7 linked regions of the Homo sapiens genome follow. The protein of the gene in region 1 interacts with the protein of each later gene in a pairwise test. Each region holds a gene or a part of one and is shown in the gene's direction. Other genes may lie near its edges. The genes, in order: NFKBID, IKZF3, HNRNPF, SH2D1B, ZBTB16, PLEKHN1 and IRX6.

Evidence for each region.
Region 2: the proteins of NFKBID (region 1) and IKZF3 interact in binary tests that used the Homo sapiens proteins (3 or more experiments, as listed by UniProt).
Region 3: the proteins of NFKBID (region 1) and HNRNPF interact in binary tests that used the Homo sapiens proteins (3 or more experiments, as listed by UniProt).
Region 4: the proteins of NFKBID (region 1) and SH2D1B interact in binary tests that used the Homo sapiens proteins (3 or more experiments, as listed by UniProt).
Region 5: the proteins of NFKBID (region 1) and ZBTB16 interact in binary tests that used the Homo sapiens proteins (3 or more experiments, as listed by UniProt).
Region 6: the proteins of NFKBID (region 1) and PLEKHN1 interact in binary tests that used the Homo sapiens proteins (3 or more experiments, as listed by UniProt).
Region 7: the proteins of NFKBID (region 1) and IRX6 interact in binary tests that used the Homo sapiens proteins (3 or more experiments, as listed by UniProt).

The regions. Positions count from the first base shown.
Region 1 is NC_000019.10:35,890,390-35,894,438, reverse strand, and holds part of NFKBID (NF-kappa-B inhibitor delta), read left to right. Parts: intron 1-1,271; coding exon of another isoform or gene 1,272-1,379; exon of another isoform or gene 1,380-1,736; intron 1,737-3,948; coding exon 3,949-4,049. UniProt on the Homo sapiens protein: Regulates the expression of IL-2, IL-6, and other cytokines through regulation on NF-kappa-B activity. Functions in the regulation of inflammatory responses.
Region 2 is NC_000017.11:39,790,971-39,795,019, reverse strand, and holds part of IKZF3 (zinc finger protein Aiolos), read left to right. Parts: intron 1-2,086; coding exon 2,087-2,347; intron 2,348-3,436; coding exon 3,437-3,604; intron 3,605-4,049. UniProt on the Homo sapiens protein: Transcription factor that plays an important role in the regulation of lymphocyte differentiation. Plays an essential role in regulation of B-cell differentiation, proliferation and maturation to an effector state.
Region 3 is NC_000010.11:43,402,436-43,406,484, reverse strand, and holds part of HNRNPF (heterogeneous nuclear ribonucleoprotein F), read left to right. Parts: intron 1-4,049.
Region 4 is NC_000001.11:162,405,253-162,409,301, reverse strand, and holds part of SH2D1B (SH2 domain-containing protein 1B), read left to right. Parts: intron 1-4,049. UniProt on the Homo sapiens protein: Cytoplasmic adapter regulating receptors of the signaling lymphocytic activation molecule (SLAM) family such as CD84, SLAMF1, LY9 and CD244. In SLAM signaling seems to cooperate with SH2D1A/SAP.
Region 5 is NC_000011.10:114,251,162-114,254,487, forward strand, and holds part of ZBTB16 (zinc finger and BTB domain-containing protein 16), read left to right. Parts: 3' UTR 1-3,326. UniProt on the Homo sapiens protein: Acts as a transcriptional repressor. Transcriptional repression may be mediated through recruitment of histone deacetylases to target promoters. May play a role in myeloid maturation and in the development and/or maintenance of other differentiated tissues.
Region 6 is NC_000001.11:969,169-973,159, forward strand, and holds part of PLEKHN1 (pleckstrin homology domain-containing family N member 1), read left to right. Parts: intron 1-1,108; coding exon 1,109-1,255; intron 1,256-1,352; coding exon 1,353-1,433; intron 1,434-1,517; coding exon 1,518-1,590; coding exon of another isoform or gene 1,591-1,710; coding exon 1,711-1,838; intron 1,839-1,908; coding exon of another isoform or gene 1,909-1,944; coding exon 1,945-2,040; coding exon of another isoform or gene 2,041-2,051; intron 2,052-2,155; coding exon 2,156-2,236; intron 2,237-2,906; coding exon 2,907-2,982; intron 2,983-3,119; coding exon 3,120-3,256; intron 3,257-3,692; coding exon 3,693-3,842; intron 3,843-3,991. UniProt on the Homo sapiens protein: Controls the stability of the leptin mRNA harboring an AU-rich element (ARE) in its 3' UTR, in cooperation with the RNA stabilizer ELAVL1.
Region 7 is NC_000016.10:55,327,203-55,331,256, forward strand, and holds the end of IRX6 (iroquois-class homeodomain protein IRX-6), read left to right. Parts: intron 1-93; coding exon 94-203; intron 204-383; coding exon 384-691; intron 692-1,497; coding exon 1,498-2,109; intron 2,110-3,095; coding exon 3,096-3,103; 3' UTR 3,104-3,554; downstream 3,555-4,054. UniProt on the Homo sapiens protein: Transcription factor. Binds to the iroquois binding site (IBS) motif of target genes to regulate gene expression; functions as a transcriptional activator or repressor. Modulates expression of RCVRN, VSX1, BHLHE22/BHLHB5 and TACR3/Nk3r.

The DNA.
Region 1 (4,049 bases):
CACTGCACCCAGCCTGAAAAATCTTATAGCTTGTGACTGTCAGAGAGAGAATTAGAACCCAGGTAGTCTGACTTTAGAACCTAGCTTTTAATTATGTTCTGTTCCTTTCCTGTGACAGTAGCTCCTTCATAGGCTGGCTGAGAGAATTAAACATCCACAAAAAATGTTTATTTATTTATTGAGATGGAATCTCACTCTGTCACCCAGGCTGGAGTGCAGTGGCATGATCTCGGCTTACTGCAACCTCTGCCTCCCGGGTTCAAGCCATGCTCCTGCCTCAGCCTCCTGAGTAACTGGGACTACAGGCATGCACCACCACGCTTGGCTAATTTTTTTGTATTTTTAATGGAGACGGGGTTTCCCTATGTTGGCCAGGCTGTTCTCTCAAACTCCTGACCTCAGGTGAGCCGCCCGCCTTGGCCTCCCAAAGTGCTGGGATTACAGGCATAAGCCACTGCGCCCAGCCGAAAAATGTTTTTTTAGTTAAAGAATGTTGAACACCAATAAAATATAGAAAATAGTGGAATGAACTCCATATGTCCAACATCAATAACCAGCCACTCATGGCCAGTCCTGCCCCATCCACTCTCTCACTTTCAAGTGATTTTTTTTTTTTTTTTGAGATGGCTCTCGCTCTGTCACCCAGGCTGGAGTGCAGTGGTGCGATCTCGGCTCACTGTAAGCTCCGCCTCCCGGGTTCACACCATTCTCCTGCCTCAGCCTCCTGAGTAGCTGGGACTATAGGCACCCGCCACCACGCCCGGCTAAATTTTTGCATTTTTAGTAGAGACGCAGTTTCACCGTGTTAGCCAGGATGGTCTCGATCTCCTGACCTCGTGATCCACCCGCCTCGGCCTCCCAAAGTGCTGGGATTACAGGCGTGAGCCACTGTGCGTGGCCTCTCACTTTCATGTGATTTTTAAGCAAATTCCAACATGTATTTTTTTCAAAAATATTTGTGTATCTTTAAAGAATAATGGTGTTTAGCAGAATTAGCTAGATGGTGGGGATGGACTGTAAGAAGGACGGGCATGACTGAGTAGAGACAAGATAAGGCATTATTAGCGGGGTTAGGAAATGAATGATGGTAATCTAGGCTCTTAATGGTTGCAAAGTAGAGCTAAGTGATCATTTGGGCAATACAGAGAAGGTGAAATTGATACTTTGGTAATTCATTCGTTTCTTCACTCAGAATTTTGGACACATATGATGTAGCTACCAGTGTGCTAGTGATGGGGCATAAAGTTGCTTTTTGTTTGTTTGTTTTTTAGAGACAGAGTCTGGCTTTGTCACCCAGGCTGGAGTGCTGTGGTGCGATCACGAATCACTGCAGCCTCGACTTCCTGACCTCAAACATTCCTTCCACCTCAGCCTCCTAAGTAGCTGGGACTACAGGCATGAGCCACCTCACCCGGCTAATTGTTTTATATTTTTTGTAGAGAGGGGGGGTCTCACTATGTTGCCCAGGCTGGTCTCGAACTCCTGGGCCCAAGTGATCCCCCAGCCTTGGCCTCCCAAGTGCTGGGATTACAGGCGTGAGCTGCTGTGCCCAGCTACCTATAATGTTTTAATAAGAAAAGACCACTTTCTTGTACTTTTAGACATTAAAATTTAATGGAAAAGAGAGGAGATGATAAGTAAACAAAGAACTGAACATAATTACAAATTGGGATGAGAGCTGCCTTGGGAATGTAGAAGGAGCTCTTAGACAATAAAAAGATTGGCTTTATATTGGATGCGGGGCTCACAATGAAGGTCATTCTGAGGAAATTACATTTAAGTTGAGCAAGAAATGATGAAGAGGAAGAATTAACTGTGTGGTAGGGTTCTGGGAGAACTCAGAAATCAGGGAGTATTTCTCTGAAAAAAGGACAAATAATTTTTTTTTTTTTTTTGAGATGGAGTCTCGCTCTGTCGCCCAGGTTGGAGTGCAGTGGCACAGTCTTGGTTCACTGCAACCTCCCAGGTTCAAGTGATTCTCCTGCCTCAGCCTCCCGAGTAGCTGGGACTATAGGCATGTGCTATCACACCCCACTAATTTTTGTATTTTTAGTAATAATAATAAGTTTTTTAAAAATAAGAAAGATGGCTGGGTGCGGTGGCTCATGCCTGTAATCCAAGCACTTTGGGAGGCTCAGGTGGGCGGACTGCTCGAGCTCAGGAATTCGAGACCAACCTGGGCAACATAGGGAGACCCCATCTCTAAAAAAAATACAAAAATTAGCTGGGCTTGATGGCACATGCCTGTGGTCCCAGGTACTCAGGAGGCTGAGGTGGGAGGATCACCTGAACCTGGGGAGGTCAAGGCTGCAGTGAGCCATGATTTTGCCACCACACTCCAGCCTGGGTGACAGAGCAAGACCCTGTCTCTCAACAACAACAACAACAATAATAAAAGATAAGAACTCTTTCCCTGTAATCCCAGTGCTTGGGGAGGCTAAGGTGGGAGGATCACTCGAGCCCAGTAGGTTGAGGCTACAGTGAGCCTTGGTCACACCACTGCACTCCAGCCTGGGCAACAGAGCGAGACCCTGTCTCAAAAAACAAACAAAAAACATAGCTTTTTTTTTTTGAGACGGAGTCTCACTCTGTTGCCCAGGCTGGATTGCAATGGTGTGATTTTGGCTCACTGCAACCTCTGCCTCCCGGGTTCAAGCTATTCCTGTGTCTCAGCCTCCCAAGTAGCTGGGATTATAGGCATGTGCCACCACGCCTGGCTAATTTTTGTATTTTTAGTAGAGACGGTTTCACCATGTTGGCCAGGCTGGTCTCGAACTCTTGACCTCAAGTGATCCGCCCTCCTTGGCCTCCCAAAGTGCTGGGATTACAGGCATGAGCCCCTGTGCCCTTCGAAAAAAAAGAACTTTTTAAACCTCAGTATCATTGCTCTGTCTTTAAAAAATTAAAGATTTTCTTGTAATACCAAATATCCTGGCTGTATTCAAATTTCCTTTTGGCTGTAAAATGATAATTTTTTTCATTAAAAAAAATCAAGATCCAAATAAGCACACATATTATGATGTTACGTCTTTTCAAATCACTCTTAATCTAGAGCTTTGGTTTTGTCTTCATCATTTTTTGGACGAGCAAACTAGGTGGTTTTGCCCTGTTATCAGCACATAAAATGTTTAACATTCATTATCGTTACAAACTCCTTAAAGACACATAAAAAGGTTTCATTTTAGAAAATGTCTTTTATTTTCCCCCAAATATGATGGGAACAGCTCAATATTGTGGTGCAGTATTGCAATATTAGCTAGTCCACTGATTAATGCTGCCAACTCCTGTGCTTGTAGATAAAGTACAGTCTGTGTGGGTCGGGATGCAATTTAATGTGTTGAATGGAGGGCAGGTAGCCAAGGCAGTTGCTTTGAAGAACTGGAAAAGGAGTCTCTTTCTCAGACACTGGTGGGAAAATTGTCATGAGAAATGTACAGTTCTGGAAGGTGTATGGTGTGAATGGTACACCCTGAGACGTGGTGTTGTGCGGTGCACAAGACATACAACTGAATAAGGCACTCTTGGTGGGGCTCGCAGAAGAGGGCCAGCATCTTATTTATTTATTTATTAATTTTGAGATAGAGTGTCACTCTGTCACCCATGCTGGAGTGCAGTGGTGTGGTCATGGCCCACTGCAGCCGTGAACTCCTAGGCTCAAATGAACCTCCTGCCTCAGCCTCCCAAGCAGCTGGGACTACAGGTGCGCACCACCACGCCTGGCTAATTTTTCTATTTTTTGTAGAGATGAGGTCTTGCTGTGTTGTCCAGGCTGGTCTGCAGCTCCTGGCCTCAAGTGATCCTCCTTCTTCAGCTTCCCAAAGTGCTAGGATTACAGGCGTGAACCACCGCACTCCGCCAAGGGTCAGGGTCTTTAAAGACTCCTGGATTCTGTGGGAGGGCACCTAGGTGTGAGGCTGGCCCTGACCTCTGCCATTCCCTTCCCCTCAGGAGATCAAGAGCAACAAGACAGTTCTGCACTTGGCCGTGCAGGCTGCCAACCCCACTCTGGTTCAGCTGCTGCTGGAGCTGCCCCGGGGAGACCTGCGGAC
Region 2 (4,049 bases), on another chromosome or scaffold:
ATTTTCTAACCAAAATGGAAAGGATCCTTTTCTGCTGGCCTTTTCTATCTGCTGTTTTTGGTTTTAAGTAGCTGAAATTTTCCGTTGAGGTTCTTTTAAACGCCTACATGCAAACTGAAGAGCACTCAAGCTTTGGTGGGATATTACCCACAGCTGGAGTGATGGAGGAAGGGAGGCAAGTACAAGCCTCAGGTGCATCCTTCTCTTAAAAAAATAAAAAATAAACACTTAAGCAAACAAATTCCACTTGAAAGCAGGGAAGACCTATCCAGAGAAAGAAGTAAACCTCTTTCCAAGTAGGAAACAGATATCATTTCTTATATAATCCAGATCCATAGGGTGGGCAAATTTGAAACATGTTGGACTTATCCTACAGCCCTACATCTTTGCTAGTCAAAGAGTGAAAAGTTGTGAACCATGAACTGTGGTAGGAAGCAGTGGAACTGTGTGGCAGCCCTGGCTCCTCTGATGGTGGTTAGGCCCTGTCTTGCTCTATTAAGCAAACACAGTTAATATAGATGAAAGGTAACCTTGATAGAAGTGAAAATTGAAACTTGGGTTGAAGGTAGCAAGCCAGGCACAGCTGCAGTTGTACTTCCTCCTATGCAGCAAGAGGAGCAACACTTACTGATGTTTTTTGGAAGGGATGTAGTTTTTTAAAATATCTTTTTTCAGACTGTTTTGGGTTTTAACATTTACACCATTGATGGGAGGGTGTGTAATACAGTTGGTAAGAACCCACTTAGGCCTTATATGTCTAGTGCATGAGGTCAAATCCAAGTAATTGATAGTTCAAGCTTAAGTTTTGCATTCTAATCACACCTCTGCCAGTAACTGGATGTGTAACCTTCGACAAATGACCAAAAACATCTCTGCTCCCAGATTTCCTCATCTGAGAAACAAGAGGGTTGGATTAGATGACCTTTAAATTCCCTTCCAGCCCTACACTCCATTGATTTGTGATTCCTCATGGGGAGGTACAACTTTTGATTTCTAAGGACCAATGGTTGAAAAAGTAAGCATTTATATAGCATATTTTATATATGCAAAATCCCTTACAAATGTTTATTATTCTTACATCAGGCAAATTTTTAGGTTTTACTAGTGTCAGTGCAAGTACATAAATTTGCCTTCTTTGTTTCTTATGTTCTTCATATTTTTCCCACGTTCTTCATATGTTCTTATGCTCTTCATGAAGAGTATTACAGCTCTTCTTTTAAATTTCATTCATTTACATTGCAGTTCTTAAGATAGTACTTGGTCAGCCAACTCACTTGAGCCAGTCCCTCCTCTCCTATCCAGTCCTATTACACAATCCTTGAGTCCTTGAGTTTAGTTCTCCCTAACTTGGGACCTAATGGTCCTTCCCCTTATTTAGATTGAGCCCCACTTACCTGTGTCGATGAAAGTGACTCCTTAGGTTATATGAAAGAATTACTTTTCCTTTTGTCTTTCTCAACACTTTTTCATTAGTACTGACAACTTCCTCTACAGTCAATGTTGTGCCTTTATCAGCTCCAAGAGAGACAGAGATAAGATGTGTTTTAGCAATTCATATACGTGGAAGGGGAAGAGGCAATGCATGGCTTAAAATTAGAAAAACTATGTTAACTAGTCAACTCTTAATCTTAATGGCTTACACTGGATGCATCTGAAGGATTCAAACAATATTTTCTCCTTGAAACCTAAGAGTACATCACCTTGCCTTTTTAACTGCAGCCACCAAAAACAGTACTAGATCTGAGAACCCTTCCTCTCCCCTAGTACTGGAGAAGAGTTGCTCAATGTTTGTTTCATGGCCACTTTGAGCAAACTTAGCTAAAATCTATTATCTGTAATTTTCTGGATAGCCTAAAACACTATCGTCTATTTTTATGTGTGTAAGTATGTGTGTTTTCCTCTGACTGTGGTTCTGAATTTAAATAACGTGCGGTCACGCTAATGGTGCTTTCTTGTTTTGTAGATGTACAGTGTTTTGTTAGCTTCGATTGGTATTTAATTGTCAGTTGTGGGTCTCTGCTGTTTGAGCTGCTTTGATAGCTTCAAGTATAGTCGTTGTTCATTTCTTGCATTTTCTTCCCTGCAGATGATTCAATGAAAGTGAAAGATGAATACAGTGAAAGAGATGAGAATGTTTTAAAGTCAGAACCCATGGGAAATGCAGAAGAGCCTGAAATCCCTTACAGCTATTCAAGAGAATATAATGAATATGAAAACATTAAGTTGGAGAGACATGTTGTCTCATTCGATAGTAGCAGGCCAACCAGTGGAAAGATGAACTGCGATGTGTGTGGATTATCCTGCATCAGCTTCAATGTCTTAATGGTTCATAAGCGAAGCCATACTGGTAAATAGTCTGCTTTTTTCATTCTTCTGAAAACTCTCCTAATGCAGCCACGTGAGAAATGAAGTGGTGGAATTTGGAACTTTTGGTTACTTTCATTGATTTTTGCTATAATGCTGATGTATCTCTCTCTCTGCATTGCTGTTCACTCAGTGCTTTTTATTCCTGCCTCACCATGCATTTGGCAAACATATTGCAAATGCTATGAATAAAAAAAGACTGTAGAGAGCACAGTGTTCTAGGTCAGCCAAATACTTTTTCTTCAGTTTCTAAGTAGGAGTTGAATTGTGTGATTTGCTTCTTAGCCATCTTTTGTATATTTTTGCATAACATTTTTAATAAGAGCAGATCTTCTTATTGTATTGGGTTCAAATTTGGTAAATGAAAGGACATAGTTTTTATTTCCAGCTTAAAATAATGTATCTTCAGACAATAAACAGGTAGTCTATAGAAATGCATACAAACACAACCATCGCACTTGAGCCAGTCGATTCCATCCCATATCTCATATGAAGACTTTAAAAAGGAGAATTTCTAGCCCTCAACACCTTGTAAGGACTTTAGTTTCTGGCTCTTTTTTCAAAGGAGATTATATTCAAAAGGAATACTAAAAAATTAGCCAGGCATAATGGCAAACACTGGTAGTCCCAGCTATTCTGAAGGCTGAGGTGACAGGCTCACTTGAACCCAGGAGGTCAAGGTTTCAGTGAGCCATGATGGGACCATTGCACTCCAGCCTGAGCAACAGAGCAAGAAGACCCTGTCTAAAAAAAAAAAAAAAAAAAAAAGGGAGTACCAAGTAATATAGTAATATAAAAACTTAGATCTAGAAAGCACTTCTAGAGCTGCTCTTGTTTCTTTGCTCTGATTCAATATGATACCTAAAATAGCCTTGCTAGTGGGTGCTTTTTCTCTTCTACAGAGGAGATTTCATAAGTAAGTCTTAGGCTTGCCTTGAAATGCAGCTCCCAACTGATCCCAATGTGAACAGTAATTGTCTAAAAGATGAGCTTTTCCCCTAGGCATCTAATCTGTGCATATGTTTCTCCACTTGCCTGTGACCAGAAATCTCCTTTTTTGTCCTTTTTAAAGGTGAACGCCCATTCCAGTGTAATCAGTGTGGGGCATCTTTTACTCAGAAAGGTAACCTCCTCCGCCACATTAAACTGCACACAGGGGAAAAACCTTTTAAGTGTCACCTCTGCAACTATGCATGCCAAAGAAGAGATGCGCTCACGGGGCATCTTAGGACACATTCTGGTAAGTGAGAGAAATGAGCATTCCTTGTCTAGGAAGTGCATTCCTCAGAGCCCAGTGTGGAAACTAGAAAGAGTTAAGTAGGAAGGTTTCAATCTGTCATTCTTGTTCTGAAGGGTTACAACAGCAGAGACCTCTAGGGCTAATTACACGACCATTAAGGCACTAATTGCTCTCCGTCTGCCTCAGTGGAGATGATCATCTCCTCACCATCCTTGCACCCATGGAGAACAACACAGTCAGATAGGAAGAGCCCACCCTATAAAAAATGTCCTTTTAATTTTTGTGAGAAAATTATAGCCATCAGTATTTTCTTCTGGTAAACTTTATTAGAAGATTATTTTCCCAACACACACACTCTTTCCATTCAAAAGACGAGACAAGCAAATGATGTACAGTTTGTAAATTATGAAAAACTGTGATCTGGATATAAATCATTGTTTGGGGG
Region 3 (4,049 bases), on another chromosome or scaffold:
TGTGCTCAAGCGATTCTCACGCCTCTGCCTCCCAAAGTGCTGGGATTACAGGCGTGAGCCATCGTGCCCGGCCACTTTTTTGTAAACTGCCAAGTTTTCTGTTAAGGGTAGCGTTATAAAGCTTTATTCAGGTAAAAAATGGAATTTATTTAAGGGAAAAGACTGAGTAAATAGAAAGTTACTTCTCCCACGTGGCCAGAACCTTGGAAAGCCTGGAGGCAAATGAGAGCCCGGTGGGGGTAGATGCCTGCAGGGGCTGCAGAAATGTGACAGGCCCTTTCCTTGGAGGTGACTTCTCTAATTCCCTCTCCCCCACTGAGCTCTGGTTCTCTGCTCTTCGGGAGAACCACATTAGTTGACTCTTACTAGGTCCTAGAAGTTTTACTCCATTTTCTAATTACATGCTCAGGACTACTCCAGAAGGGCTTGCTATTAGCCCCATGTTTCAGATGAGAAAATGGAGGTTGGGAGAAGTCATGTGTCCAGGGACACAATTGGGACTTGGGACCCAGTCCCAACTGGGTCCCAAGTTGGACCGGGACACCCCTCCCCTGCCAGGGCCCTTGCCCTGTCTTAGTTGCCCTGAGCTACGGTTCTTGTGGAGGGCAACAGGGTGGGCAGAGGGAGAACTGAGCTCAGCCAAGACCGCCCTGGCTTATTTTACAGCAAATCCCAGACCAATAAGGTCTTTATTAATAAATAAATCCGCAGTATTTCTAAGAACTTTTAAAACCTAACCATGATACTGCTGTCATGCCTAAAAATACATTCCAAAATATCAAGTATCCAGGGTTTAAGTGTTTCTGTATTAAATTTTTTTTTTTTTCCGAGACGGAATCTTGCTCTTGTCACCCAGGCTGGAGTGCAGTGGCACAATCTCAGCTCACTGCAAACTCCATCTCCCGGGTTAATGCCATTCTCCTGCCTCAGCCTCCCGAGTTGCTGGGACTACAGGCGGCCGCCACCATGCCCGGCTAATTTTTTGTATTTTTAGTAGAGGCGGGGTTTCATCATGTTAGCAGGGATGGTCTCGATCTCCTGACCTCGTGATCCGCCGGCCTCGGCCTCCCAAAGTGCTGGGATTACAGGCGTGAGCCACCGCGCCCGGCATGTATTAAATATTTTAAACAGCTGGTTGGTTTGAGTCAGGATCCAAAGTCACACCTTATATTTTGTAGATAACTTTTTAAATTCAGAGCAGCACTGTCCAATAGAAATATAATGTATGCTATAAATGTAATCTTATATTCTTTAGTGGTAAAAGGAAACATGATTCATTGTATTAATAATTTAACCTAATATATATCCACTACTATTTTGCATGTAATTTTAAAACACTTTTTCATTTCTCCATGATCTTGACTAAAATAATTAAAAACAAAATCCTGTGAACTTGTCAAAATCCAGTGTGAGTTTTACACTTACACATTTCAAGCGTGGTGAATGGATGCTGTGTAAGTGATCATCTAGAGGTTCCCCTTTCTTAAAAGGCTCCATCCCCCGTTATATTTGTCGGGCTGTCTTGCAGCATTCCTTCCCCACACTTCGCATTTTTCTGATTGTTTTTCCGTGGTGGTCTTTGAGTGTCTGTTCTTTATATTTCCTGTAAAGTGATAGTTACCTCTAGAGGTAGTTTTTGGTTTTGGTTTTATTTTTGTTTTTGAGACGGAGTTTTGGTTTTGTTGCCCAGGCTGGAGTGCAATGGTGTGATCTTGTCTCACTGCCTCCTGGGTTCAAGCAATTCTCTTGCCTCAGCCTCCTGAGTAACTGGGATTACAGGGGTATTTTTAGTAGAGACGGAGTATCAACTTGTTGGTCAGGCTGGTCTCAACCTCCTGACCTCAGGTGATCCACCCGCCTCAGCCTCCCAAAGTGCTGGGATTACTGGTGTGAGCCACCGCACCCAGTCTGGAGGTAGTTTTGATTCAGATGAGAGTTTTTGGAAAGAAAACTTACTTGAGGTGCTGTGCTCCAACCGGAGGCACATATTGGTTGGTATCTTCTCTTTTGTCATGTTACAGCAGCTATTAATGATCATTATGTAGATCCATTATTTTCTTAAATGGTTTTCAAATTAGTGATATTTTAATAATCGATTCCTTTTCATTTATTAGCAGGAATACTTTTTCATGTGATCGCTCTAAGATGTACTTTTGTTTTTGTTTTCCTTTTTTTTTTTTTTTATAGACGGATTCTCACTCTGTCACCCAGGCTGGAGTGCAGTGGCAGGATCCAGGCTCACTGCAGCCTCCGCCTCCTGGGTTCAGGCGATTCTCAGGCTCGTGAGCAGCTGGGATTACAGGTGTGCAGCACCACCACGCCCATCTAATAGTAGAGATGGTGGAGTGGCAGGGGGTGGGGGGTTTCACCATGTTGGCCAGGCTGGTCTCAAACTCCTGACCTCAAGTGATCCACCTGCCTTGGCCTCCCAAAGTGCTGGGATTACAGGCGTGAGTCACCCACCACGCCCAGCCCTCCACATTTTTTTTTTTCGAGAAAGGGTTTCACTTTGATGCCCACACTGGAGTGCCCTGGTGTGGACAGAGCTCACTGCAGCCTCAACCTCCTGGGCTCAGGCAATCCTGCCTCATCCCCCCAAGTAGCTGGGATTACAGGTGTGTGCCACATGCCCAGCTATTTTTTTTTGTATTTTTTGTAGAGAAGGGGTTTTGCCATGTCGCCCAGGGTGGTCTCCTGAGCTCAAGTGATCTGCCCACCTCGGCCTCCCAAAGTGCTGGGATTACAGGTGTGAGCCACTATATATGGCCTCAGTTCTTCCTTGACATAAATTCAGCTTAGCATTTCTCATAAAACATTAAAAAAGTACCTCTATACTTTGTCTCCATTGATACATCAGTATGAGAAATTGCAGTGATTGAGTTTGAAATGATCAACTACACTTGCATTCCTGAAATCCAACTTGGTCATAATATCGCTTTATATATTGCTGGATTAGGTTGACTGATACTTGGTTTGGACTTTTGCATCTGAGTTCTTGAGTGAAATTAGCCTGTGATACTTGATTAATTGTAAAACTCTTTTGGAAATGAAAAAATCAATTCCAAGTTCATTGTAGATGTAAGTGTAAAAATTTAGAGAAGAACATCAACGCTTTGTAAGTTCAGATAACTATATGGGCTGGGGCTAGGAAAAAGATCTCTTGAAAATGACACAGGCTGGGCGGGGTGGTTCACACCTTTAATCCCAGCAGGGCCAAGGCAGGCGGATTGCTTGAGGCCAGGAGTCCAAGACCAGCCTGGCCAATGTGGCGAAACCCCATCTCTACTAAAAATACAAAAATTTGCCAGGTGTGGTGGTGTGCATCTGTAATCCCAGGCTGAGGCAGGAGAATTGCTTGAACTCAGGAGGTGGAGGTTGCAGTGAACCGAGAGTGGAATGATGGTTTGAGCTCAGGAGTTCAAGATAAGCCTGGGCAAGATGGCAAGACCCTATCTTTTCAAAAACAGAATTTTTAATTAGCCAGGTATGATAGCGAACACTTGTAAAGACATAGAGGATGCAGTGAGTTGTGATTGCAGTACTGCATACCACCCTGAGCAAGAAAGCAAGACCCCGTTTAAAAAAAAAAAGCCATCATAATTAAGAAAAGGCATGACAGATTAAGACTCCTATTAGATTTATCCTAACGGTATGCCTCCTGTTAGACAAAATGCTTCACCTAATACAAATACAGATACTCTTACTTACTGTTATATCCCGATAAATCCATCATAAGTTATTTGATTAGAATAGTGCCATCTAATAGAATTATGATGTTTATGACAAATACATATCTTTTCTAATTTAAGTTGGTGTTAGATACCATATACGATCCTCTTAAAGTACATAGAATTCAGAAGTTAGTTTTCTTGTGATGTTTTTGTCTGGTTTGGTAACACGTTGTATTAGTATGCTAGGGCTGCCATGCAAAGTAATACAGACTAGTAACAAATTTTCTCACGGTTATGGAGGCTAGAAGTCTTAAGATGAGGGTGTTGATAGGGTTGGTTTCTTTTCAGGCAGGAGAAATAATGTGAATAGTAGGAATT
Region 4 (4,049 bases), on another chromosome or scaffold:
CAATGAAGCTGGGAAATGATGGCAACAGAAACTGTTGTGTCTCTGGACGGGAGACGGTGAAGAGCTAGTTGTGCTGGGGCAAGCAGTGGGAAGGGAAAAAACAAGAAGGTGCAAGGACAGACCTTGGCCAGGATCTCAGGGTATATGGTCAATATGGGATTCTCTTCCTTCCTTTCTTTCTTTTTTTTTTTTTTAGACAGGGTCTCACTCCAGCTCCTAGGCTGGAGTGCAGTGGTGCGATCATGGCTCACTGCAACCTCAACCTTCTGGGTTCAAGAGATTCTCCTGTCTCAGGCCCCCTGAGTATCTGGGACTACAGGTGCGCACTACCATGCCTGGTTAATGTTTAAATTTTTTGTAGACATGGGGTCTCGCTATGTTGCCCAGGCTGATTTCGAGCTCCTGGGCTCCAGTGATCCACCCACCTCAGCCTCCCAAAGTGCTGGGATTACAGGCATGAGCCACTGCACCCAGCCTATATTGGGATTCTCTTTGAAAATTGATATTTATTCTCAACTGTTCTGTGGTGCATCAGCCCATCTTGCATATTCATCTAAAGCAAAGGTCACTAAGAGATGCTAAAAAATGGGCCAGGCGTGGTGGCTCACACCTGTATTCCCAGCACTCTGGGAGGCCGAGGCGGGCAGATCACTAGGTCAAGAGATTGAGACCATCCTGGCCAACATGGTGAAACTCTGTCTCTACTAAAAATACAAAACTAATTAGCTGGGTGTGGTGGCATGCGCCTGTAGTCCCAGCTACTCAGGAGGCTGAGGCAGGAGAATTGCTTGAACCCAGGAGGCGGAGGTTGCAGTGAGCCAAGATCGCACCACTGCACTCCAGCCGGGTTACAGAGCGAGACTTGATCTCAAAAAAAAAAAAAAAAAGAAGAGAAAAAAAGAGAAGCTAAAAAATGAAAATAAACCAAGTGGAGAGGCAAAAATAAATATTTGTTAAGCCCCTGCACATGATCAGGTCTCACCCACCTCCCTACACATGTCACTGAAAGGCAAACAACATTTCATTCACCCTCAGGCTTAAGGCTTAGGTCAAGTGACCCCTGAAGCTATCTCCTCATAGGGCCTTGTAAAAATGTATTATCATACAGATAAGTATGGACTATTAAATTCTAGTTGTTCAACAAATATTTGAATTCTCTCATATGTCAGACAGTGTGCTAGACACTCGGTTGATGCCTTCAACACAACTCAGAGCCTAGTGGGGAAAATAAAGAAGTAAACAGACACAGTGATGCATGTGATAATTATGATGATTGGACTATCATTAGGGCACTGTAGAGCTGACAGCAAAAAGGGGAGAACCAGATATTGGAGCTGAGACTTTAGGAGAATAAGTGGAACCTTCATTCATTCAACAAGCATATACTGAGCACTTATTATGTTCCATGCGTGGTCCTAAGCATTGGTAATACAGTGATAAATACTACTGGCAATGTTTCTGCCCTCATGAAGTTAATTTCAGTAAGAGGAGAAAATATGATGAAAATGAAACAGAGTCATATGACAGGGAGAGACACAGCTGCTGCTTTCCATTGGGTACAGGAAAGGTTTCTCTGAAGAGGTCACATCAACCAATTCATGCTTCAAGATACAACCCTTTGCAAGCAAAGCAAGAATTACTATTATGATACAAGTGTTAGCCTGCTTGTCTTCACTGACACAGAAAAAGTTACCATGTAGGTATTATCTATGAGCCAAACATTTTGCTAAGCATGGTACATGCATTATCTTATTTGTCATTTGCAATCCCTTTGCGGTAGGCGACATGATCACTATTTTGTGAGAAAATAAACTGTAGCTTCTTATTTAATAGCTTGCCTAGGGCCAAATTGCTAATATGTTATTACATTCCCTCTCTTACCAATGTCCCCAGCTTCACTGAAATATGTTTCAGGTAATCACCTTGGATCTGTGTTATAAAATGCCCAAGCAGGGGACCTGAGGGCTTGGGAGTGGACTCTGATATGCAGTGTCCCCTTCTTCTCTGCTGCATTAAAATGGGTCTCCCCTGGACACCCAGCTTTAAAATTTCTCTGTTTTGTACTCTTTCCCTTTATTTCTTAGACTGGCCGACACTTAGGGAGAATAGAAAAGAACCTACGTTGAAATATTGGGGGCTGGTTCCCCCGATACTTCAGGACTTTCACAGAGCTAAATATTTAGTGATGAAAATACTGTGAGGAAGGTTAGAAATAAAAGAAGGAGGTCACAGAGAGAGCTGACCTAGCAGCATATGGCACTAACCAGAAAGCTATGTGGTAACTGTGGACAGGAAATGTTTTCTGATCTTACAATGTAATAGAGTGTCTAGAAAACTCCAGTGTGTAAAAGGTTGTCTGTGTAGTGTGACTTTGTGAGTGTCTAAACTGTCTGCCTTTATCATCAGTAAAATTAAATGGAGTAGATATTAGGAGGTGCAAAGGATTCATCTGCAAGTGTGAAGAAAAGGAGGACTTTGCAAAGCCATAGGAAGGCTGCAGGTGAGGAAGACCTGAGCCCTAACCTACTGCATGCTCTCATTAAGAATAATAATGGCAATGTCTATCTATTGCCTTGAGAGTCATTTATGAGTCTCAGATTCTGAGACTTTTGCAAGGATTGTAGAGTACAGAAAGAAAAGAAATGATCCATTTTGTTGTGGTGGTTTATCAAGCTAATGAAAATTCATTTTAGAAAATCAAATATAGAGAAAGGTATAAAAAACAAAACAAACTATATCAGTCTCACCACTCTGAAATCACCATTTTTAATATTTTGGCATACATCTCTCCAGACTTCTCTGCGCATCTATAAACCAATATATGTACATAAATGGTTCATTATACATGATGGCTTGCAACCTGTTTTCTCCATAATTGTAGGTCTCTTTCCCCATCAAAGAAAGCAGGTCATCCCCTTATGACTGCTTAGTATTTTATTGATTTGATATATCATAATGTATACATATCATACATTAGGTTATTTTCAATTTTCATTTGCAATTTAGTCCAGTGGACTCAGTGTAATTTGGAATGATTAACATTTTTGTACTTACATCTGTGAAAGTTTGCCTTACTCCCTAGTTAGGATAAAATCCTAGATGTTTAAAAAAATCTTCATGCACACTGAAAAATTAGTACCACAAAAGGTTGCACCAAGATACACTGAGATCAGGAACAGTGATAAGGCCAGAGGTCAAAAGTCTTAAAATATTTCTTTGTTGACTTGGATTTCCCACTTGCATCATGGCATGGAAAAATGCAGAACACATTGTTGATATTATAGGGTGCAGTCGATTCCATTTCCTTCAGCTGACCTTTTGAAGGTTAGTTAAAATAAAAACTTGAACACAAACAAGTTTCCCCACAACAATGGCCACAACATGAGACCGTGCTAATCTGTGGGCTGTTCATGCGTTGAGCAAGGACTCAGAGATCCGTGCACAGCACCTCATGGAACGATCACTTTGAAAGCTAAATAGATAGAGTAAAACAATTCAAAGATATGGGAAAACTTAGAGGTCCTGTATTCCAGCCTTTTTGAACCTCAACTGAGAAATTAATGCCTAAGATTTTTAAATGTTTTTTATAAGTCCAGTGTATTTCTCATAAATGACGACAACGATTTCCATAGAATAAACAAAAAGGTAGGCTCCACTGGGTATCAGTCTCACACAGAGAGTCAAGACACCACATATTTATTGAGAACATAACTGCAAAAATAGGAAACACTTTTTCTATCTGAGGCCAAAAACCAATCATGAAAACAGCAAAAGCACATATGTATAAGGAATTAAAATTTAGTTTATATATTAGAAAGATAAATTATATTCATCTACCTTTTTATGCCATGAATATGTCTTACTGCTTTATTGAGGTATCACTGACATAAAATAAAAAGTGTACAATTTGATGGATTTTGACATATGTATGTACACTTATGAAACGAACACAGCCAAGATAATGAACATATTTATCACCTCCAAAACTTCACTTGCACCCCTTTGTAATTTCTCATCAACATACCTCCCACCTATGCCCAGACTCTGGG
Region 5 (3,326 bases), on another chromosome or scaffold:
CTCTGAGAGCCTCAGGACCCCTGCCCCTCCTCCAGCTCTTTGTTCCCAGCCTCCCCTTGACTCCTGTCCTCCAAGTCCCAGGGGAGTCCCAGCCCCTCAGGGACCTGGCGGTGTCTCCATCCTTCTCCGGTTCCCTAGTGGGATAGCTGCCTCTGACTTCAGGGTCCCTCCTACCCTCAGCCTTCTGAGAACACAAAACAAATCCAATACCCCACCCTAGTCCAGCACCATCGTGAGCAAGATTCCTGCTGCGCTGCTTCCAAAATGGAAAAGCATCACAACTAAATACCTAATATCCTACCAAACAAACCACAGTCCCTACGTAGCCCTACTTCAGTCCCAGGAGAAGGAATCCATGAATGGGCTGAGGTTCCGAGGGTAGGTTGTGGATGTCTTTCTCTAGAGGGGTCCCACACCTGGAAAAGAGGACACCCAGCCCGTGGGATGAGGGAAGCTGGGCAAGGGAGAAAGTTGTTGAGTCACACTGGGGACCCCAGATGTAGTGAGCTCAGCAAGAAAAGCCAGGTCCAGAGAGAGTCGCACAGAATTCCTGACTCACAGCGCCCCTCGGTCCACAGTGGAGAGGAGGAGGAGGAGGAGCAGAAGGAGGGGGAGGAGCTGCAGGAGGAGGAGGATTTGAAAGCGCTTTGGCCTTGTGTTATGTTTTGCTTCTTTTCTGTGTCCCCTGTTAGCACATTGTACTTGAATTACCTCAGTTTTTTGTGACCTCATGAGCTTTCTTAACCTCTGTATCTCTTTTTCGGTTGGGGCTTGGAGGAATGGGGAGGGTGTTCTTTTCTGTTTCTTGTGTAAATTAATAGTTGTTTTTATAGACTTCAGCTGGTCAAGACCCTCCCCGTGCCCCTGGAGACCAGCCTCCCAGCTGGCAGGAACTGTGCAGGAGGAGTTGATACTCAGGATCTGAATGTGAGGGCCGAGGAGGGCGAAGAGCGTGGGTGGGGAGGGGATGTTGCTTTGGGGTCTCATGGTCCCCAGAGGGCACTAGGGAGTCACTTTTGGCTCCGCTGGTGCATGAAGTCACCTGTGGCCACCATCCGTTCCGCCTAAAACACTCTGGAGAGAATCCCACCTTTCTTACAATTTGCTGGGCCATTGAGGTTTGAGGGCCTGTGTTTGGATCCTTGCAACTGTGTGGTCTCACCTCTGTGCGTGCATTCTCATTGCCAGAATTGGTCTATTTTCACGGCTGGTCTTTGGGGAGGGGGGCGGGATCCAGCCTTTGTTTTGTTGTGTTGGGGTGGGGGTGTTGTTTTTCTAAAAGCTACCTCTTATGTTTGTCCAGTTGTTCTTTTGTTCCTTTCCCGCCTCCCATTCTGCTGCTCTTCCTCCCTCTTTTCCCCAACCTCCCCCGACCCTCCTGAATTTTGGAAAGCACATTTGCAATATTCGTGTTTGCTTTGGGACGGACCCTCCGTTTCATCTCATGCTTTATGTGTAAGAGTTTTTTATTATTATTTTTTCTTTCCTTTCTCTCTCTGAGAAAGTTGTGGCTGCGTTTTGATCTTAGGTTTTACAAAGTGGTTTAGGGAAGCGGTTTTGGGGAGAAGGATCACGAGGAATGTAGGGAAGCCGGAGGGATGGGTGCTGCTGCGACGACCCCCCCGTCCCTCGGCCCCAGCCCTCCTGCCCTCCCCTTCAATCTCATCCACCAAATCTGAAGGCCTTAAAATTGTGTGTTGGGAGGATGTGAATTGGGAGGACGGTGTCACTAGACTGTGGATTAGGGATGGTAAAGTAGGGAGGATGCTATTTTGCAACTATAGTAACGACTTAGTGTTTTGGAAAGGAAAAGAAGTTAAACTTGAAATACGTGACTAGAACAGTTGTCATGTTTATAATGTGAAAAGGGTGAAATCATTTGGGGGAGGGGCCGTCTGTAAGAAATCATTATGCACTATGGCTTCCTCCTCTGGTCTGGGAAGAAGCGGGGACTGGCTGGCCCTCAGGGGATCTGTAAATCCCAGAAAACAGTATTTTTAACAGCAAGATGTCATTCAACATTGGTGGGGAAGGAAGAGAAAAAAATCAAACTATTCCATAGAACTAGCTGGCCCCCTCACTCCCATGCCCTTCCCACTCAGCCTGGGCCCCTCCCCGCTCCATTCATAAAAGCTGAGAGGGTTGAGCTAATCTTCACAAATTGTAATATTTTTGTAGTATCTGTTAGTTCCTTCGTCAGTTCTGCAGAACCTTGCCCTTTCCTTTTGTAATGTGAATAGGAAGACAAAAGACAAAAAAAAATCCACCACCACCAAAATATCCCTTTGTACATGTATGTGCGTGTGCGCGTGTGCTTTGTGTGTGTGGTTGTGTGTTAAATCATGCAGTATTGTCGTAATCTGGTGTTGCAGCAATGGATGGTACTAAATCAGCACCTGGATGCCCCACCCAACCCCGTGGGCCCTGCAGACCCCAGTAGGGAGGTATGGGGAGAGCTCAGGGGAGTGTGGTTTCTGAGGGCTACTGTCTGGGGACACCTCTGAACTTACTGTACCTTCCTCTCCCCATGAAGACACCTGAATAGAGTCTAACATGCCTCTTCTCCAACTTCCTACCTACAACAACAGAACAGTTCTAATGTTGCACGGCCTAGTGGCCAGGGGGCAAGCTAAGAGGCTGTCTGGAGGCTTTATATGTGTCTGGAGTTAAGGGGAGAGGAGGAGGGTAGACAGGGGTCTCTCCCCAGGTGGGATCTGAATATCTGTCCTCCCCTCTTCTTCATGCCACCTGACTCCTTCGGCCCCCTGGCTGCCTTTAGCTGTGGTACTGCTGACAACCCTGCTTGCTACTGCCTTATCCAGCACAGTGAAAAACTTCTCCAGCCTGGCAAGGCCACGTTGGTTAATAGTCCCTTTCCCATGTCCAGCTCCTACAAATATGTCCCTTAATGCATTTGGTGACATTTACACCTCATGTGCTCTTTCCCTATTCACTCCTTCACTCATTCAAAGCATTAAAATCCTATGTATATATAGGATAGACAAATATATAGATATATAGATATATATATATATAGCAAGAGATTGATATAAAATAGTAAATATCATTGCTGCTTTGGGCTGCTTTGGAGGAGGAGGCCATGAATATGGGGAAGGCAGATCTGGGGTGCAGGGGTAGGTAGGGAGGCTGGGGGACCCAGTGATTCAGTACAATCCAAGGGATGCAACGCGGGCTTGTTTAATCTTTGTGCCTGAACAGTTTTTCCATGTTGAGAAAAAAAAGAAAAAAAAACTGCTGCAATTTTTCACAAGTGTATGGTACCTTTCTGGATGCTATTGGTACAATTGCTGTGGATGGAAGAGGGC
Region 6 (3,991 bases), on another chromosome or scaffold:
CACCCCCAAATTCTTCTAACAAGTCTTCAGAGGTTGAATAACCCAAGCCATGTTACACAGCTTAGGAAAGAATGAAGATGGGTTTAATCCACTGAGTCCAGATCTCACCATCTCTACCACTAGACCAGGCAGCTCTGTGTGGGGAAGTGTGTCTGTGTGTGCGTGTGTGTGCACAAGTGTGTATGTGTGCATGTGTTTGCACGTGTATATGTGTGCACACATCTGTGTGTATATGCACAGGTGTATGTATACGTGTGTGTTGGTGTATTTGTGTGTGTGTGGAAATGTATGCATGTATGCAGTGTGCATGTGTGCATGCATGTGTGTGCATGTGTGTATAGGTGTGCATGTGTATGTGTGCACGTGTGTATGTGCACGTGTGTATGTGTATACATGTGTATGGGTGTATTTGCGTGTGGATATGTATGCATGTATGCACGTGTGTGCATATCTGTGTATGTGCAACTGTGTATGTGTGCACGTGTGTATCCATGCATATGTGTGCGTGTGTGTACATGTGTGTATAAGTGCGTATGTGTGTTCCCGTGTGTATGCATCTGTGTCTGTATTGTGTGGCATGTATGTGTCTATTGTGTGTGTATGCATGTGTGCGTGTATGCATTTATACATGTGTATGTGTGCGCATATATGGATGCATGCATGTTGCCTGCATGTGCACGTATCGGGTGTGTGTGCGTGTACGTGTACACGAATATGCATGTATGCATATATGTATGCACGTGTGTGTAAATTCTGCCGTGACTGTTTTCCTGTGGAAAGGCTGAGTGTGCAGGTTCTGTGCCTGTGGGGGGCTGTTCTTCACGTATGTGTTGTGTGGCTGTGCACAGGTTCTGTGCCTGTGGGGGGCTGTTCTTCACGTATGTGTTGTGTGGCTGTGCACAGGTTCTGTGCCTGTGGGGGGCTGTTCTTCACGTATGTGTTGTGTGGCTGTGCACAGGTTCTGTGCCTGTGGGGGGCTGTTCTTCACATATGTGTTGTGTGGCTATGCACAGGCAGACCATGCTATAGTCCTGTAGCTGTGTGGATGCGAGCGGAGGGGGTGGGGGGCCCAGGGGAGGCCCCCTCCCCTGAGCTCTACTCCTCCTAGGACATCCTGGACCTGGAGAACCAGCGAGAAAACCTGGAGCAGCCATTCCTGAGTGTGTTCAAGAAGGGGCGGCGGAGGGTGCCTGTGAGGAACCTGGGAAAAGTTGTGCATTACGCCAAGGTCCAGCTGCGGTTCCAGCACAGCCAGGTGGGGGCCGGGCTGGGTGGAGCACGCTAAGGGTGCAGCATCCCCATCAGCCTGGGGCTCCCCAGACTCCGCACTGACGACCCTGCTCCCCGCGCAGGATGTCAGCGACTGCTACCTGGAGCTATTCCCCGCCCACCTGTACTTCCAGGCCCACGGCTCGGAAGGACTCACATTTCAGGTGAGGCGGTGGGCAATGGGGTGGGGCCATGGCCGCCCTTCCCTCCATGGATCCCTGAAGCTCCTCCTACCCTGTGCCTGGCAGGGGCTGTTACCGCTGACGGAGCTGAGTGTCTGCCCGCTCGAGGGGTCCCGAGAGCACGCCTTCCAGATCACAGGTGTTTGGGATGCTTCCCGGGCCCCCAGAGGCACTCCTGACCCAGGACTTGGAGAGGGGCCTGCCCTGTGGCTGCGGAGCACGTGTGTGTATGTGTGTGCCCTCTCTGCCCTGCCCGCAGGCCCACTGCCCGCACCCCTCCTGGTGCTCTGCCCCAGCCGGGCCGAGCTGGACCGCTGGCTTTACCACCTGGAGAAGCAGACGGCCCTCCTCGGGGGGCCGCGGCGCTGCCACTCGGCACCCCCACAGGTCAGTGCCGGGGACCCCACCCCCCTCCCCACCCTGATCCTCGCAGCCGGCTCTGACCTCCTCCTCACAGGGGTCCTGCGGAGACGAACTCCCCTGGACTTTGCAGCGCCGTCTAACCCGGCTGCGGACGGCGTCAGGGCACGAACCCGGCGGCAGTGCTGTCTGTGCCTCGAGGGTCAAGCTGCAGCACCTGCCCGCACAGGTGGGTGGGAGGTGCGTGGGGCTGTAGGGGGATGGGAGGGGTGCATGGTGGTGGGCAGGGCGGTGCAACAGCAGCTCAGTTCCCTCATCGCCTGACCCCACCCCCACCCACCCAGGAGCAGTGGGACCGGCTCTTGGTCCTGTACCCAACGTCCTTGGCCATTTTCTCCGAGGAGCTGGACGGGCTTTGCTTCAAGGTGGGCCCCTCCCCACTGTGGGCCCGCCCCAGGGAGGCAGCTGTGTGGGGGTGGGAGGGGGCAGCCATGCAGGAGGAACCTGTATTTCGGGGCTTGTTGAGACAGAGCGCAGGGCCCTGCCCACCCAGCCCGCGGTCCTGGTCAGTCTGGTCTCCGCTGTGACATGGAGGAGCCCCTGCCCGCCCTGAGGTTCTCACCCTGAGGTTCTTGACCGTCACCCTGGGGCGGGCAGCATGGGGCTGAGAGCCCCTCCCGGGGACTCCCTTGTGTGTGCCTGCCCGTGAGGCGTGTGTGTGCACACGTGCGTGTGCGTGTGTCCTCCAGGGCGGGCTCCGGGAAGGGGGTGTGCACTCACGGTAACCTTCAGTCACTGAGGAACAAACACAGGGCCCTCCCCATGGTTCACCCGGCCCAACTTCTTCTCTGGGGACCCCAAGAGGCCAGTCCTGTGGCTTTGTGTGTCTGCCCCTAGCCGGCGAAGGCCCCCGCGCCAGGGTTGGTGGTAGCCCCAGGAGACATGGGACCCACTGGCCTCCCTCAGGGTGGTGGCCTCGGTGCCCAGCTCTCCAAGTACCCAGCCAAGCTCTGGAGGGCAAGAGGGTGGGATGAGGCCAGGCGGGGCCCCGGGGCTGCCCCTACAAAGGCCTGGCCCTCAATCTCTGCTCCGCAGGGGGAGCTCCCACTCCGTGCCGTCCACATCAACCTGGAGGAGAAGGAGAAGCAGATCCGCTCCTTCCTGATTGAAGGTAGGGCCCTGACCCTGGTTCTGCCTCCCGCCTGGCCAGGCCATGGTGGGGCGGGAGCCTGGGGGACGCCCGACTCTTTAGTGGGGGCGCTGAGGGGTGCACCCCCCCGCCAGCCCCTCACAGCATCTGTATGCCAGGCCCCCTCATCAACACCATCCGCGTGGTGTGCGCCAGCTACGAGGACTACGGTCACTGGCTGCTGTGCCTTCGCGCTGTCACCCACAGGGAGGGGGCCCCGCCGCTGCCTGGTGCCGAGAGCTTCCCAGGGTCGCAGGTGAGGGGTCAATAGGCCCCACAGCCCAGGTCCTGGGCAGTGGTAAAAAGGGGGCAGCAGACCGGGCGTGGTGGCGCACGCCTGTAATCCCAGCATTTTAGGAGGCTGAGGCGGGCGGATCATTTGAGGTCAGGGGTTCGAGATCAGCCTGACCGACGTGGAGAAACCCTGTCTCTATTAAAAATACAAAAAAATTAGCCGGGCATGGCGGTACATCCCTGTAACCCCAGCTACTCAGGAGGCTGAGGCAGGAGAATCGCTTGACCAGGAGGCGGAGGTTGCAGTGAGCCGAGATCGTGCCACTGTACTGCAGCCTGGGCGACAGAATAAGACTTCGTCCCAAAAAGATAAAAGGGGGGACAGCACGGTGGGTCCAGGCAGGGGCGGGTGGGGAGGGGGTCCAGCCCTCACTCACCCCCACTCACTGCCCATCCAGGTTATGGGCAGTGGCCGAGGCTCACTCTCCTCAGGCGGACAGACCAGCTGGGACTCGGGGTGCTTGGCGCCCCCCTCCACCCGCACCAGCCACTCCCTGCCTGAGTCCTCAGTGCCATCCACCGTGGGCTGCTCCTCCCAGCACACACCGGTGAGCGCTTACGGGGTGGCAGACGAAAGTGGGGCAGAAGGCTGTCGGGTAGGTGTGTGTTGGGGACCCTGGTTCCTCAGGGGAACTCAGACTGGAGGGAGCCCCTTGCAGCCTCAGAGAGTTGCACGGGAGAGGGGCCAAAGGGCTCT
Region 7 (4,054 bases), on another chromosome or scaffold:
GGCCATACTGGGATTTGAACCAGACCCTTAGCTACCACCCCATGTGCCCCCTCCCCAACTGTACTCCTGAATTCTCTTTTCCTCTCCCTCTAGAATCCACAGTATGAATTTAAGGAGGCTGCAGGGAGTTTTACATCCAGCCTGGCACAACCAGGAGCCTATTATCCCTATGAGCGGACTCTGGGGCAGTACCAATATGAACGGTAAGGAGTGAAGGGCCTTGGTGACTGGCACTGTGAGTCTTTCCTCCCCCACTGCCAAGGTAGGGTGGATGGCGGCAGGGGAGAGGGAGGGAGCTGAACCACACTTCCACGCCACAGACTGTCCTCTGCCTGCAGTTCCTTGTTCCTCTTCTATAATGTGAGCCAGGTTCTCCCCCACAGGTATGGCGCAGTGGAATTGAGTGGCGCCGGTCGCCGAAAGAACGCGACCCGGGAGACCACCAGTACACTCAAGGCCTGGCTCAACGAGCACCGCAAAAACCCCTACCCCACTAAGGGTGAGAAGATCATGCTGGCCATCATCACCAAGATGACCCTCACCCAGGTGTCCACCTGGTTCGCCAACGCACGCCGGCGCCTCAAGAAAGAGAACAAAATGACATGGGCGCCCAAGAACAAAGGTGGGGAGGAGAGGAAGGCAGAGGGAGGAGAGGAGGACTCACTAGGCTGCCTAACTGCTGACACCAAAGGTACTGAAAACGTTCACCACCCCACCTTAAGGGTTTTACAAGTCATCAAGCAGTTTGGTCTTTCAAAAGCTGCCCTGTAGGGTAGATTTTCTGGAAGGTCCTCAGACTTACCCTTGCACTTCCCTGCCTGTCTCAGAGCATTAGCCTGTGCACTGCCTTCTACCTGTAATTCTCTACACAACCGGCTTCTTCTTGACATCAAAGTGTTACCTCCTAAAGTTCTTCCTGCCTCACCCAAGCCAAAATAGCCTCCCAGTTATTTTCTGTTCTGCCAGCCTGTTTGGATTTCCTTTGCCATACTTGTCACTGTGAGAAAGTTTACATACCCAACTTCCCTCTCTAGAATGGCAGCTCCACCAGAAGCCTTACTTGCTGCCATATGCCCTACACACCTAATACCTAAATGATGGCTGGTGCTCAGTAAATATTTGCTGAATTAAATGATATAACAGCAGCCACTTGTAGATGTTGAAATCGAGTAAAAACTGCCCCCTGGTTTTTCACAATTGAGAAACTGAGATCCAGAACTCAGGCAGCGCCAAGTGGCATTTCCTTGGCTTGGCACTGCTCGCTAGAGGAGGAGTCCGCTAAAGGGTGGTTGCAGGGCTGGGGCAGAAATTCTTTCCCAAGGACAGGTGGCCAACAACCCTGGGCAAATGCAAGGGGTGGTACGGCAGGTCTGGTGAATTACACTGAGGATGCCCTGAGTGCAGGGCGCTTCTTGCTAAAAGCTTCTCGGGGATGGACATTCCTCGGATTTCCCTTGGGCCCTGGGGCTTTTCTCACTCGCTCTTGATTTCCTGCAGAAGTTACTGCTAGCCAGGAGGCCCGGGGGCTCCGGCTGAGTGACCTGGAAGACCTGGAGGAAGAGGAGGAGGAGGAGGAGGAAGCTGAAGACGAGGAGGTAGTGGCCACAGCTGGGGACAGGCTGACGGAGTTCCGAAAGGGCGCGCAGTCACTGCCTGGGCCGTGCGCTGCAGCTCGAGAGGGCCGATTGGAGCGCAGGGAGTGCGGCCTGGCTGCGCCCCGCTTCTCCTTCAATGACCCTTCCGGATCGGAAGAAGCTGACTTCCTCTCGGCGGAGACAGGCAGCCCTAGGTTGACCATGCACTACCCATGCTTGGAGAAACCGCGCATCTGGTCTCTGGCGCACACCGCGACAGCCAGCGCTGTTGAAGGTGCACCCCCAGCCCGGCCTAGGCCACGAAGTCCTGAGTGCCGTATGATTCCTGGACAGCCTCCTGCCTCTGCCCGGCGACTCTCAGTCCCCAGAGACTCCGCGTGCGACGAGTCTTCCTGCATACCCAAAGCCTTTGGAAACCCCAAGTTTGCCCTGCAGGGACTACCGCTGAACTGTGCGCCGTGCCCGCGGAGGAGCGAGCCTGTAGTGCAGTGCCAGTACCCGTCTGGAGCAGAAGGTAGTGGGCCCCCAGCGGCGCTGGGAGTATCTATGCAAAAGACACCCACCTACCGCCCCGCCCGGCAATTGCACACCCTCTGCCATTCCAGTCTGCCCAGGTCTCCCACAGAACTGACGGGAGATTGCTTTACAGCGCTCTTTCAGACGGAAGCGTAGAGATAGGTTCTAGTACTCCCTTATTTAAAAGTCAAATAATAATAAACTCACAGGCAGACTGTAATTTACCTAGAATCACTTAGAAAGCCGTTCGAGAGATGGACAACCAGGATCTCTGCATTCGTGTGGTCCAGTGTACTGCCAAATCCACCAGGTGTGCATCACCATGCTCCTCTAGCACAAACGCCCTTGTCCCCTGCCTGCCTTTCAGAGGAGACTCGCTGGTCCCTGCTGTGCTGCTCAGAGAGTTTACTAGGGTTGGGCAGGCACCAGGGCTTTTAGAGAAGTCTAAGACTGTGGGCCAGACGCACACCACAGATTTAAGGTCAGTGCTTAAGTCCAGCTTGCAGCCCTGTCTGTGTCCCACCAAAACCCCTGGAAAGTTGTAGACATGCCCCTGCGGTCAGCAGCTTCAGGCCCCAGATTGGTACTGTCCTTAGAGAGCACTCTACCCAGGGCTCATCCCCAGGCAGGCCAGTGACTGCCAATCAGTGTCCCCTGATGCTGGCTGGTTCTTTCACTGTGTTAAGGACCTGGTGGAAGGGAATTTCATCCCACAAAGGGACATTCCCCAAGCATGAGGCAGCCTCCAGCAATTACTGTCAGATTCTGCTCTTTGTAGTAATTTCTCTCAGGATTAGCTGCTGGCTTAGAAAAGTGGGTTACACTGTTATTTGAATTTACGCAACGGATCCAAACATTACCTCTGGCAAGCTAATTGCCTCTAGACCATTTGCTTGCCTTCAGAAGAGACATGGCTGACCCAGAGGTTTCCTAAGAATTGCCACTAAACAGCCTTTGGGTTTTAATCAACCTTTCCTCTCTCAGCAGGTTAGCGCAATGGCTGCGATTTGCGAAAGAATCTTGGAAATGGGCCCCACGTTTCGAATTCATCTCCAGGTTAAGAAGCTGCCAGACCTTGCCAGGGACCAGGAGCTCTCACTTTGCCTAAGAGACAGACACACAGAAACCCTCCTAGCAGCTGTCCTTGCACGCAGAGCTGGGGTGGTGGGCCGACTTGAACCTTAGCAGTCCCCACGGGAGATGGCAGGGCACCTTGGGGAAGGCCAAGTGGGAGGCTGGGAGGCTGCCCCACCCACCGACTCTACCAAGTCTCTCTTCCTCCTGTGGATTCAGCAAGGCTTCCTCTCCTGCTCACCCCTGTCTCTCACCTCCACCAACCCCACTCACTTTGTAACTTCATCACTGACCCGGCCAATAAGGACCCTGTGCGTCTTCTCCCCCTCCTAAGCCCTTGTGTCCTTAAAAATAATCAGTCCGAACCCATGTAGTGTGGCCTATCTTTGCCAGAGGTGCTTGAGAGGTCGGTGTGCAGGCAAAGATGCATTGCGGCCAGGGATTCTTGCGACAGCGCGGCGTGGGCTGCATACCTCAGTTCCTTTAGTAGCTGGGAAAGAAACTGACAAGGTAACAGACAAGGCCGTGGCGCCTGCAGCTCAGCGGACTAACCGCTGCGTAACCAATCCGTGGAGCCAAGCTGACCACCTCGCGGGTCCTGCGCATGGGAAGTGGTGGGACTTGTCAGGATGTTTATCTGGAAACTGCATCTGTTTCCGGGTTCGTATTTGGGTTGTAAGTTTACTGGGGGAGGGGTGACGAGGACCGCGCTCCTCCGATCGAACTGAACCTAATGGGGAGGTCAGGCAGCTTTCAGGGTCGGTGTGAGGCGAGAGGGGGCATTCTTCCCGTTTTATCAAAAGTGTCAGCAAACACTTCCGGTACAGGCCAACCAATGGGAACTGACGGGCAGGGAAGGGGTCTTTGTC